Linked DNA regions of Homo sapiens. The protein of the gene in region 1 purifies or fractionates together with the protein of each later gene. This does not show direct contact. Each region holds a gene or a part of one and is shown in the gene's direction. Other genes may lie near its edges.

What was found. Proteins that work in one complex are often made in the same cells at the same time.
Region 2: the proteins of USP54 (region 1) and IQUB purify together in Homo sapiens (co-immunoprecipitation; one large-scale study listed by IntAct). This does not show direct contact.
Region 3: the proteins of USP54 (region 1) and VPS39 purify together in Homo sapiens (affinity purification with mass spectrometry; 2 studies listed by BioGRID and IntAct, with this or other methods). This does not show direct contact.
Region 4: the proteins of USP54 (region 1) and VRK3 purify together in Homo sapiens (co-immunoprecipitation; 2 studies listed by BioGRID and IntAct, with this or other methods). This does not show direct contact.

The regions. Positions count from the first base shown.
Region 1 is NC_000010.11:73,581,343-73,584,842, reverse strand, and holds part of USP54 (ubiquitin carboxyl-terminal hydrolase 54), read left to right. Parts: intron 1-3,500.
Region 2 is NC_000007.14:123,500,096-123,503,595, reverse strand, and holds part of IQUB (IQ motif and ubiquitin-like domain-containing protein), read left to right. Parts: intron 1-232; coding exon 233-394; intron 395-479; coding exon 480-652; intron 653-843; coding exon 844-999; intron 1,000-3,500. UniProt on the Homo sapiens protein: Adapter protein that anchors the radial spoke 1 (RS1) complex to the A microtubule of outer doublet microtubules in axonemes. The triple radial spokes (RS1, RS2 and RS3) are required to modulate beating of the sperm flagellum.
Region 3 is NC_000015.10:42,166,805-42,170,304, reverse strand, and holds part of VPS39 (vam6/Vps39-like protein), read left to right. Parts: intron 1-438; coding exon 439-581; intron 582-2,767; coding exon 2,768-2,911; intron 2,912-3,391; coding exon 3,392-3,500. UniProt on the Homo sapiens protein: Regulator of TGF-beta/activin signaling, inhibiting SMAD3- and activating SMAD2-dependent transcription.
Region 4 is NC_000019.10:49,975,968-49,978,170, reverse strand, and holds the end of VRK3 (serine/threonine-protein kinase VRK3), read left to right. Parts: intron 1-1,386; 3' UTR 1,387-1,703; downstream 1,704-2,203. UniProt on the Homo sapiens protein: Plays a role in the regulation of the cell cycle by phosphorylating the nuclear envelope protein barrier-to-autointegration factor/BAF that is required for disassembly and reassembly, respectively, of the nuclear envelope during mitosis.

The DNA.
Region 1 (3,500 bases):
GTTTCTAAATAGGAAATAGTTACCAATTATTAACCAGCTTTCATATTGTTAGGATATTACGGGTCTCAATGGTCGGTTATCTCTGGTCTCAAGTCCTTTCACTCTATTTTTAGGGAAAATGTGTTTAAACCCCTATTTTAAGGAAATGATAGTTTATAGATTATTTATAAATTATAGTTAATTTAGAAAATAGAAAAAAGGAAAAAAATCCATAATTTCATCATCCTAACAAGACCGCTATCATTTTACATTTACTTACCCCGATGTTGCTGAGTTTTAAACTTCTCTGTTAATTCATTCTGCGCACATTTAGCTCTGAGAAACAGGTTTCTGAACTAATAAAACACCCAATAATTGCCATACTGTGATATTAAACAGTAAACCAAGAGGTTTCACATATAACCCTCAGTGGATTGTAGGATCACAAACTACGTCAACGTCTCTTCTTTTTTTTTTGAGACAAAGTCTCACTCCATTGCCAGGCTGGAGTGCAGTGGCGTGATCTTGGCTCACTGCAACCTCCGACTCCCTGGTTCAAGCAATTCTCCTGCCTCAGCCTCCCGAGTAGCTGGGATTACAGGCACATGCCACCACGCCCGGCTAATTTTTGTATTTTTAGTACAGATGGGGTTTCACTATGTTGGCCAGACTGGTCTCGAGCTCCTGACCTCGTGATCTGTCCGCCTCGGCCTCCCAAAGTGTTGGCATTACAGGCGTGAGCCACTGTGCCCGTTCACATCTCTTCTTTTCCTATAAATCAATCTTGGTCCATCTACCTTTAGACATATAAATATTTATTTCCCAAATGCCTCAATCCCTTTTGGGCCCAAAGTTCCATCTTCTTCAGTGAATTATTTGCATAATTTAAAATGTTTTTTATTTTGAATTTATAGAAAAGTTGGAAAAATAGTTACCTCTAATGATACCATCTTATATAACCATAATACATTTATCAGAACCAGGAATTAATAGTATTGGTATAACACTATTAACTAAAGAGCTTTCCTGAATTTCACCAGTTTGCCTACCATTATTATTTTTCCTTTTTTATTTTCAGTTTTTTTAAATTGTAATTTATTTTTTTTTTATTTTTAAAGACAGGGTCTTGCTTTGTCACCCTGGCTGGAGTGCAGTGGCACAGTCATAGCTCACTACAGGCTTGAATTTCCAGGCTCAAAAAGTCCTCCTGCCTCACCCTTCTGAGTAGCTGGGACTACAGGCAAGCATTAGCCTGGCTAATTAAAAAAAATTTTTTTTGGCCAGGTGCAGTGGCTCACGCCTGTAATCCCAGCACTTTGGGAGGCTGAGGCGGGCGGATCACCCGAGGTCAGCAGTTTGAGACCAGCCTGGCCAACATAGTGAAACCCCATCTTTACTGAAAATACAAAAATTAGCTGGGCGTGGTGGCAGGCGCCTGTAATCCCAGCTACTCCAGAGGCTGAGGCAGGAGGATTGCTTGAACCCAGGTGACTGAGGTTGCAGTAAGCCAAGATCGCGCCATTTTACTCCAGCCTGGGTGACAAGTGAGAAACTTTGTTTCAAAAAAAAATTTTCTTTGTTTTGTAGAGACAGGGTTTCGCCATCTTGCACAAGCTGCATTGTTCTTTTTCTGTTCCAGGATCCTATCTGGAATCTCACATTGCATTTTAGGTGTTTTTCTTCCTTACTCTTCTGTATTCTGTAAAAGTTTCTTAGTCTTTCTTTGTCTTTTATAACCTTGACATTTTTGTAGAGTATTGATCAATATCAGTTTGAGGGCTATTTGTCAAATATTCCTTAATTTGGATTTGTCTGATATTTTTCTGATGATTGGACTGAGATTATGGTTTAGGCAAGAATACCACAGAAATAATTGTGTCCTTTTCAGTGCATCATATCATGGCATTCATGATGTCAATATGTATTATTACTGGTTATTTTGACCTTGATCACTTGGTTAAGGTAGTTTCTGCTGGGTTTCTCCATTGTGAAACTACTATATTTTCCTTTGTAGTTAATAAATGCCTTAGTGGAGATACTTTGATACTGTCATTTTTATTAATGTCATGGAGTTCTCTACACATGCAATTAATAGTGTCTCCTTAAAGACTTTATTGAACTTTAGTTACTGTGAAGTCAATTAGCTTAAAGAGTCCATCTCCTTGGATGGGCGCAGTGGTTCACGCCTGTGCCACCGCATGGTTCACAACTTTGGGAGGCCGAGGTGGGTGGATCACTTGAGGCCAGGAGTTCAAGACCAGCCTGGCCAACATGGCGAAACTCTGTCTCTACTAAAAGTACAAAAATAGCCAGGCATGGTGGCGCATGCCTGTAATCCCAGCTACTCGGGAGGCTGAGGTAGGAGAATTGCTTGAACCCGGGAGGTGGAGGTGGCTGTTGCAGTGAGCCAAGATCGCATCACTGCACTCCAGCCTGGGTGACAGAGCGAGACTCTGTCTCAAAAAAAAAAAAAAGTCCTTCTCCTTAGAAACTTCCCACACTTTACACCTGGTTTTATCAAAGGGTTCCCAGGCTTTGCACGAACAAATTCTATCTAGTCTTCATTGATTTCAGTTCCATTCTAGCTCTGCTCATAATGAATCTCTTATGCTAATAACCTGTAGCTCTCTGGGCCTCATTTACCCCTCTGTCTCTTAGGGCGCCAGGCTCCTCCTGGCCCAGTGTCCTTCCAGGCCTCATCTCCCTTTATGCACAAGCCAGTTCCTTTGAATGACTGCTTTGGGTTTTTTCCGAAACAGGCTGAGAGAAGCTGACTTTGTTGGTGAAGAATACAGTGGGGGATAATTAGGGTGGCTGCAGCTGGAGCCTGGTTTATTACTTTGGCCTGAGAAAAATGGTAGCACATTAAGCTGTACTGTGTATACTTGTGAAAGAATCATTCTCTGTATTTCACTAATACAGAGAAAGTGTTTTTTTCTAAAGGTCACCAGCTTCTAGAGGTATGTCTTTAATTCTGGCAACCTTAATCTGTAATGATCTTTTCAATTTAGCCCTGTTGACTGTGGAGTTACTTGCTGTGAGCACAAGAATCCAAAATCCAAATGTGGACCAAATATTATATTTAGATCTATTTAGTTCAAACAAATTTTATACAGTGAATAACATTAGATGTTTCTTTGATTAATAAAATACAAATTTATTAGTATTACTGAATTCAAAGTAGCTTTTTGAATTATGTATTTTCTCAAGTGACATATACTATAAAAGCCCCATTTATGTAATGTGGATGGGGCAGACTTAGATTCTCTGACACTTGAAGCTTATGCAATTCAGAGGGCCTCCTTTAAGGAAAATATTTTTTGAAACAGAAAATGAGATATTGGGCCTTGAGAATCTGTGCAAGAGAAAGAGTCCTGAAGCTTAAGTTTCAGTGGCTTGGTAAATCTGCCTCTGGATGTGAGGCACTGCAAAAAGGTTGAGACCCACTGTTTTCCATCATTTCATACATGGAAAGGTTTTTGGCTTACCCACAGGAGGCTAGTGTTTTCAGATTGGGAACA
Region 2 (3,500 bases), on another chromosome or scaffold:
TGAAAATTGCTAAGAAAATAGATATTAAGTGTTCTTACCACAAAATGATAAGTATATGAGGTAATGGACATGTTAATAGCTGTATTAAGCTACTTCACAATGTATACATAGTTCAAAGCATGCTGTACACAATATATACAATTTTTATTTGTCAATTAAAAACAAAAAATAAGATCAATGAATAGCCATTTCTTTGTCATAAAACTTTTAAAAATTTTATTTCAATTTTTAGGAAAAATTCTTAAAAATAATGAGACTCTAGTACAACATGGAGTTAAGCCACAGGAAATTGTACAAGTGGAAATCTTTTCTACAAATCCAGATCTGTATCCAGTCAGAAGAATAGATGGATTAACTGATGTCTCTCAAATCATAACTGTCACTGTCCAAACTGGTTCGTTATTTGATGTCTTTTAGATAAAGTATTTTTGAGTCCCTTCTTGGTTGAGCTTTCATTGAATCTTGGTGTTATCTCTCAGGACTTGATCAATACCAGCAGGTACCTGTTGAGATTGTCAAATCTGACTTTCACAAACCATTTCTTGGTGGATTCAGACATAAAGTAACAGGAGTAGAGTATCACAATGCTGGAACACAAACTGTACCTAAAAGGATTCCCGAAAGACTCAGTATATTTTGTAGGGATACGCAGGTAATGTTTTTATTTGTCTCTTTAGGTTTTTGAAGGTATAGACTCAATAATTGTACTGTATGACTCTCTCAAATTTCTCTTAAGTAATTATATGGCAATTAATAAAAGAAAATGAACTCACATATGTAGAAAAACTCCCTTATGTATATATATAGGGGATACTGATTTAAATTTTTAATGTTTTCTTTTAGACAGTTTTTCAGAAAAAAAATCTCCAACAAACTACAAATACAACATCCACACAGATGACTAACATTGGTGTATATGTATCAAATATGACTGATAAACTGGTAACACCAGGAAAGTATTTTTCAGCAGCAGAATACCATGCTCAAAGACTAAAGGCGGTGAGATAACTTTTATTGTGGATGAATACTAAAAATTTGATATATAAGCCAGTTGTTCCGAGTGTGTCTCTTTCTCCAAGCCACATTTGCTTGAGAAAGAATGCTCATGAGTATGGGTCATATTTCACTGCTAACAAAGCAGTCTTTATCTCCAGTATTCCCCCATGTAAAGAACCAGCATCCTAAATGCTCCTAATCCTTCCTTTTCTCTTAGGGAAACCCAGCTTCTTTGTGTATTGCCTTTGGCCATTATTAGCCTTCTCAACACTGCTGTCCCTTGGCCTTAAATCTTGTCACAGTAGAATCACCAAGGGAACTTTCGAGACTAATTGAAACCAAATAGGACAGTAGTCGATTTTCTCTGATATTAACATAGCCGCTCCAACTCTGTTTTATTTTTTTGCATAGTCTCTCATTTTTCATTCTTTTACTTTCAACCTATTTGATCTACCTCCTACCATCAATTTACTGTGAGTAAAAATGACCTGAAAGCAGTGACTTTAAGAGATTTTGCTTTTCAAATGACAAGAAATCTGGAGCTAGGCTATTCAGCCCAAGACCTTTAGAGACAAACTTGTAGTGAAAAAAAGTTAAGTCTGTTGACTTAATTGCCCTGAAGGAGACAGTATACCAGGGGAACCATGGGGTTAACTTTATAGCAGGCTTTATCAGTGCCAGTTATTCCAGCCTGATAATTTTTTACTTTTTCAGTCCAAACTAAATTTCACCAAATAAAGGAATATATGGAGTTATTATATAATTTGGGGAAGAGTGAAGTTTGAGTGGGATTTAGGGGAAGCAGTATTCTGATTGTCTCAATGCAAAACAAGGGTGTGTATAAATGGGCCAACATTAGGTCTGGACTGTGAAGTAGACCAAGGTCACGTTCCTTTGGAAACAAAGTTAAAAGAGATGGGAAATGTTTCTTAGAAGTTCTCTGAAGTTCAGCACCTTGGTTGTATAATTGAGGCTGCTTCTCTCTGTCAAAGTGACGTGCAACCTCTAGGCAAGAGTGGAATGTTTGTTTCTTACTGATCTAATTTCAGACAGGAAAGTTTCTGATAGTTTCTGAATTTAGAGAACGAAGTTTCTCAGTGAGTAAGAAGATAGCAGTCACTAAAAGAAGGGGATTGTTGAAATATTTTATAGTTGTAGAGTGTCCTTGGGAGAAATACTGTTTTTGTTAATTTTGTAGCTGACCTGATTAGTGCCTGTTATTCCAGCCTGACAATTTTTTACTTTCTCAGTCTTAATTAATTTTTACTTTCTTACTATACTGGGCATGGGTGGTGACTCTATGATGTCATCAGAATCATAAACTCCTTTCATCTTTCTACTCCATTAAGCTCATCATGAGCTTGTTACTGTATGAAGATAAAATGGTTGACTAACTTTCATCATGCCTGCATTCCATGTGAGAAGAAGGGAAAAGTCAAGGCAGCATGTTCCATGAATGCCACCTTCAAGGATTTCCCCGGAAAGCCCCACCCAGTGACTTCTACTTGCATCCCATTGGCTTGAACTATGTCATGTGACTATCCCTACTGCAAAAGTGTGTGATAAATGAATTTTTAAAGTAGCATATCATTGCTCCTCAATGAGATTGCAATCTTAGTAAGAGAAAGTAGGGCAAAATGGATATTAAGTAAGGAAATGGAAATTTCTGTCATTTTCCAAACTCCAAAAAATGATATTGAAAGAATAAAAGTATAAATATACAAGGACAAAGAATACATGAGAAGAGTAAATGTGAGTTGTGTTTTTTTTTTGAAGTTTTAAAGCAGATGGAAAAGTGTTAACTTGACTTAGTAGAGCAGAGGAAGTGAAAATCTAAATGCTGCCAACGAGGATGGCATCAAGAACCAAATAGATTTGCCCCATAGAGTCTTGAAAGGTGAATTGGAGGTTCTGTGGGAGGTGGAAGTGAGGTGTGACCTGTTAACAGAGGAATTTGTTAAAAGCCGGTATAGGGAGTACATTTCCGTTTAATAAGTTCTTTTAACCTTGATTCCTTTCTACTTGGGTCATGTTTATTTTATTTTTTTAATAGGTTTTGAGTTCACTGCTTACTATTTTAAATCTTTCTTGTTTCAAGAAAGATGATATTTTGCGTGACTACTGATATTTTTGGACTCATTCTTGCTATTTCATTTTGTTTTATTTACTAATTATTCTTATTTGTTTATGCTTTTTTTAGCCTTTTCTTTTTGTTGGTTTGAATAAATGTTTCTTTTTTTGTTCTTTCATAGTTCAGAAATAAGTATTTTGTTTTTTCTAGTGGTTATGTTACAGAAAAGTGGTCCCGATCCAGACCCCAAGAGAGGGTTCTTGGATCTCCCACAAGAACTAATTCAGGGCAAGTCCATAGAATAAAGTAAAAGCAAGTTTATTAAGAAAGTAAAGGAACAAAAGAATGGCTACTCCACAGACAGAGCAGACCTGAGGGTTGCCTGGTGCTGGTTGCCCATTTTTATGGTTATTTCTTGATGATATGCTAAACA
Region 3 (3,500 bases), on another chromosome or scaffold:
ATCAACAAATTAGCCTCTTGCCATATATACTACAAATATATTCCCTAGCCTGTTGTCTTTTTTTTTAGTAATGTTTCTTTTTTTGACTTAAATTTTTTATTGTTGAGTCTCTTGATCTCTTCTACTTCAATATCAGCATTTTTCCTTAGAAATTTTTTATTCTCTACTTTCAGAGGCTTGATAAATATTCAATTCTAATTATGTGTGTGTATTTGAATATAGTCAGGCATTTTTGTGATGTTTTAGTGAATTTTAACATATGTATAAAAAGTGCTCAAATCATAAGTCTACAGCTCGTTGAATGTTTATGAACTGAGAGTCTTTTTTTTTTTTTTAAATCAGTCTGGAACTTATTTTGCTATAGTAATAGTCCTGTTTTATTTTATCCCTAAATTGTTGGGCTCCTTTCCAGAGGAATCATGTTTACCTTCCATATAGATCCCACCCATGTGATGGGCCTGTACCCTGACCTGCTGCCCACAGACTACAGAAAGCAGTTGCAGTATCCCAACCCATTGCCTGTGCTCTCCGGGGCTGAATTGGAGAAGGCTCACTTAGCTCTGATTGACTACCTGACACAGGTAGGTATAGTACAGAGTGCGTGAAAGAGTTTGCCTGGGAGTTTCAGTACTTGTTTCTTTGTGGCAAGGAATTGAGGGCCTTCTCTAATGCCAAGGCAGTCTGTAAATTAATGCTGTAGGAAGTCTGCCTGGGGTAAAGTTTCTTTCTGCTACTTCTAACTTTACAGTACCATTGAGGTGGGGTTTTCTGCCAAATCTTGATAAAAATAAACACACCCAATTCCTAGTAAATTCACACAAAGCTGTTATAGAAACTAAAAAAAGTAAATTTTAGTTGATAGAAGCATACAAGTTTTTTTAAAACAAACTTTTTGTAATATACATGGTTTTGGGGAAAATGCCTCCTGTATGTGGAACCACTTGGAAAACACACACAAAAAAGTACAAAGCAGAAATACAAATTACCTATAACTCTACCACCAGAATGTAAGAAACTAACATTTTAGTGTTGTCCTTCTAGACTTGTATATCTATGAATTAGCTTTTGTTTATTTACTTCTTGGTTTATTTATTGCAAATGGATATCAAATTGTAGATTGTTTTATAGCTTAACTTTTTAAAAATTTAGCCATATACTGAGAAAGTACTTCCTTATCAATAAATGTCCTTATATAACATGTTTTTTAGGGAGGTATTTAGATTTAAAATTTTTTATGATTTACTGTTATAGACAGATACATTTTTTAAGTCAGCACTAAAGCCAGCATCTCCATTAAAGTCTCTTAACCCTAGATTTCTGTCACAGAAGGCTATTGTTTATTTCCTGTGTACCCATTCAGAATCAGAGACCTTATTGATATTTTTTCCTCTTAAGTGTTTTGCAGATCTTTGTAAGAGGTCTCCAGAATGCTCTAGGGTAGGCACTGAGAAGTATTGCTGTTGGCCGGGTGTGGTGGGTCATGCCCGTAATCCCAGCACTTTGGGAGGCTGAGACAGAAGATCACCTGAGGTCAGGAGTTCGAAACCAGCCTGGCCAACATGGCAAAACCCAGTCTCTACTAAAAATACAAAAATTAGCTGGGTGTGGTGGCCCACGCCTGTAATCCCAGCTATTCAGGAGGCTGAGGCAGGAGAATTGCTTGAACTCAGGAGGCAGAGGTGGAAGTGAGCCGAGATTGCGCCACTACACTTCAGCCTGGGCAACAGAGTGAGACTCTGTCTCAAAAAAAAAAAAAAAAAAGAAGAAGTATTGCTGGAAAAATTGTCATGCCACTTTCCACTCCCTGCCTCTGGGTCAGTGAGTCCCTGCAGGTCTGATCAGGCATGGGTGGCCTTGGCCCTTCCTTGACATTGGGCTCCAGGGGTACCCTCCTGGGGCTGGCAGCCTGCAAGGAGCACACAAACTTGCCACTGCCTACACACTGCACACACTGTGCTAAGTAAAAAAGATTCCTGGGCATACTATCTCCCAAAGCCAGTGGCATTGTGGAAGGCCCTCCACTGCCAATGTCTTAGCTGTAGGAAGGTGAGCACACGTCCTTCCCTGGCCTTCTTCACTGACAATGGGAATGTGTGAAGTAACTGACACTAGTATTGTGCCAGAGAGATGGCAGAGCAAGACCATGGGCTCTGCCAGACTCAAGAGAATACATACTGGATGAAGTTCTAGGATAGGCAGAAACTCATCTCCAGGGATCAAAAGCAGATCAGTAGGTGGGATTGTTTGGGAATAGCACGAGGAACTTTCTGGAGTGATAGAAATGTTATCTTCCTTCACTGAGGTGGTTACATGCATGTACACATCTGTCAAAATGTATCTGATGGTACACTTTAAAAGATTAGATTTTATTGTAAGTTATACCTCAATAAGGTTGATTTTTAAAAAAATAAAAGAACATGGGCTTTGGAGTCAGCCCCCAGTGTGAATCCTGCCCTACCCCTTATGTAGCAGCTGACACCTGTGCCTTGGGTTCCTCACCTGTAAAATAAGGATAATATTATCGGCACTTGTTTTAGGTTTAAGATGGTATATATAAAGTGCTTGGCATGGTGCCTGGTCTGTAGTAAATATTCAATAAATAATTGTTGTTGTCTCTGTGGCAATTTGGCAGTGCTAAAAATCGAATGCTAATGTGAGATCAGGCCAATAGGCATGAGCTGATTGGAGGTATTCAGAATTACCCAGTAGCTCAGATGACAAAGGAAGACTTAGTCCTGGCCTTAACCCCACATTTTGACCTTTGCAGAAACGAAGTCAATTGGTAAAGAAGCTGAATGACTCTGATCACCAGTCAAGCACCTCACCGCTCATGGAAGGCACTCCCACCATCAAATCCAAGAAGAAGCTGCTACAAATCATCGACACCACCCTGCTCAAGTGCTATCTCCATGTGAGTTACCTGAGCGCTCGGGTGCCACAATTCCCAGTTACCCTGACAGTCTGGGAAAGTAAAAGGGAGTGCTAGACCCTGAGGGACCTGCCATTAGTAAGAGTGAAGTCTTTGATTCTGGAAACCATATAGACTTCTCCTGATGTCTGTGAGTCTCTTGGAATTAAGAGGATAGGGCAAGATATCAATGCACAATTGTACAGTGGATTCATCTTCTCTGGTCGGATTGCAGTTAGTGCTACAAAGTCAGCTGGGACAGTATTTCCTTCAAGAAATGTTCTCCCCCACAGAACATTAAAACACATTGTGCGAAGGTCCATAAATGCTCTAAAAGCCTCTACCTGCTGTCCTGAAAGAGGGCTGTCTGCTTTCTCTTGCTTGTGCTACATTCCTGGCCTTTCAGCCTAGAGCAGGCCTGGGCCAGGGAAGGGTGGGGCTCCCCAGGAAGCAGTTTCCACTGAACTCCTGCTCTTTCTGCAGACAAATGTGGCCCTGGTGGCCCCCTTGCTACGCCTGGAGAACAATCACTGCCACATCGAGGAGAGCGAGCACGTGCTAAAGAAGGCTCACAAGTACAGTGAGCTTATCA
Region 4 (2,203 bases), on another chromosome or scaffold:
CTGACATCCTGTGACATGCAGCACGGTGCCCACCTGTACCACCCCACAAAGAATCCCCCGGCCCCGTGGTCAGCAGCACCACGATTGTGAGATCCTAGTCGCAGGGCATCTTGAACAGCATCTCCTTTTGACGGCCTGTCTCCCGGCGCAGCGACGTTCTTCTTGGCGCTTGGATTACAAGTGCTTCTGCATTCCCACAACGTTTCCTTACATCTGAGGCTGAAACCTGAGCTGACACGTGTGTGTCAAGCGATTCGTGGAGCACCTGCGCACAGAGTGGGCCAGTGGTGAGGGGTGGGGACTCTTTTCTCCGTGGTGGAGTAGCAGGCTCTCTGCCTCAACCAGTGGTGCCGAGAGTAAAGTCATGACCTGTGCCAATCTCCCTCTTTCCCCCACCTCTCCAGCTCGATACACAGCTCCTCCGTGTACCCAGTTATCCAGGCCAGACAGCTCGGGGTCCTCCCCAACACCCTTGCTCCCCCAGCAGCCTCCTCCAAACCTTCGGTCCCGGGTGAGACTGACCACGGGGTCACTTGTCACAGTCTTCTGCTGGCAGCCAGCTCCTCCAGGGCAGGGTCGCGTCTGACTCTGTCATCTCTGCTTTTCTGGCATGGCACAGGGCAGAGGCTTCATCCTGTTTATCGATGGAGCGAGCCCAGGCTTCCCGTCGTCAGTGCCACTGTGTCTCACAGTGCCTTCCTCACCCAGGGCAAAGGGCATTTAGAACCTGACACCTGACAACCTCCCAGGGTCTCCACCGTCTCACACCCACGCGCTCCCTGGAGGCCACTCACTCAGCCCCTTGGTTGGGAACATAACGAGGAGATGGCATTTAAGGAGCCCAGTGATCTTCGAGCACCTTGAAGGTCATCTTGCCTGTGCTCCACAGCAGCTCCTTGCCTTGGCCCGAGGCCGAGCTCCCTTCCTCCCCCGTGCACGATGCACCAGCCACACCCCCGCCCCTCTGATTCTAGACCAGGCCAAGCTGGACCCCACCCCGGAACCTTTGCACCTGCCATCCCGAGTTCTGGAAAGCTCCCCTCATCCTGGCTTTATGTACCTGCTGCTTCTCAAGACCCGAGGCCTTCCCCATCCTCCATGAGGCATCCTCACTGCCTCCCCACCCACTTGCTCATCATGTCACCTGTTTTCCACACAGCCCTTGTTCCCATCTGGAGGGAAGCGTGTGTTTAGTGTGTAGTCTCCACCCGCCTCCTCCTCATCCTAAGCCCAGCAGGGGCTCCTCATCCCGTATGGTCATGATGACATCCCCAGTACCTAGAAGATGACATCCCCAGAACCTAGAAGGTGCTTGGCATGAAGTGAAGGCATAGAGGGTGTTCCTTGAATGAATGAGACACTAACAGCATTTTTATTGTCTTCCAGAACTTTCCATTTGCAGTGTGCAACAGAAAAAAAAAAATGAAGTAATGTGACTCAAGGCCTGCTGTTTAATCACAGATAAGCTTCTAGAACAAGCCCTGGAATGTGCATTCCTGCCACTGGTTTCAGGATACTCATCAGTCCTGATTAGCCTCCCGGAGGGCCCCAGTTTCCCTCCCGTGAATGTGAAGTTCCCCATCTTGGTGGCCTGCCCTTCAGCCAGTGTCCTAGCAAAGCTGGATGGGGTTGGGCCGGCCCACAGGGGGGACCCCTCCTACCCTTGACACCTCTGTGCTTTGGTAATAAATTGTTTTACCAGAGCTTGAGGAGTCAGTTATCTGTAAAAGTTCTTTTGGGGCCCAGGTGCTGTGGCTCATGCCTGTAACCCAGCACTTTGGGAGGCCAAAACTGGAGGATCACTTAAGCCCATGAGTTTGAGACCAGCCTGGGCAACAGGGTGAAACCCATCTCTACAAAAAATACAAAAATCAGCTAGGCCTGGTGGTGGACGCCTGTAGTCCCAGCTACTTGGGAGGCTGAAGCAGGAGGATTACTTGAGCCCAGCAGGTCGAGGCTGCAGCAAGCCATGATTGCACCACTGCACTCTAGCCTGGGCGACAGAGTAAGACCCTGTCTAAAGAAAAAAAAGGAAGAGAGAAGCTAAACCTGCCTCCCTGAATTTTGTCTTGAGTAACTCAGATCATGCATCATACTTTGGAGTGTGGAGAATCTGAGGCCAGGTAAGGAAGGAAGTGCTCTCAGATACCCTGACTCTCCTGTACTGATAAACCCTGCTCAGGAGAAGCAGGTGGGATCAGGG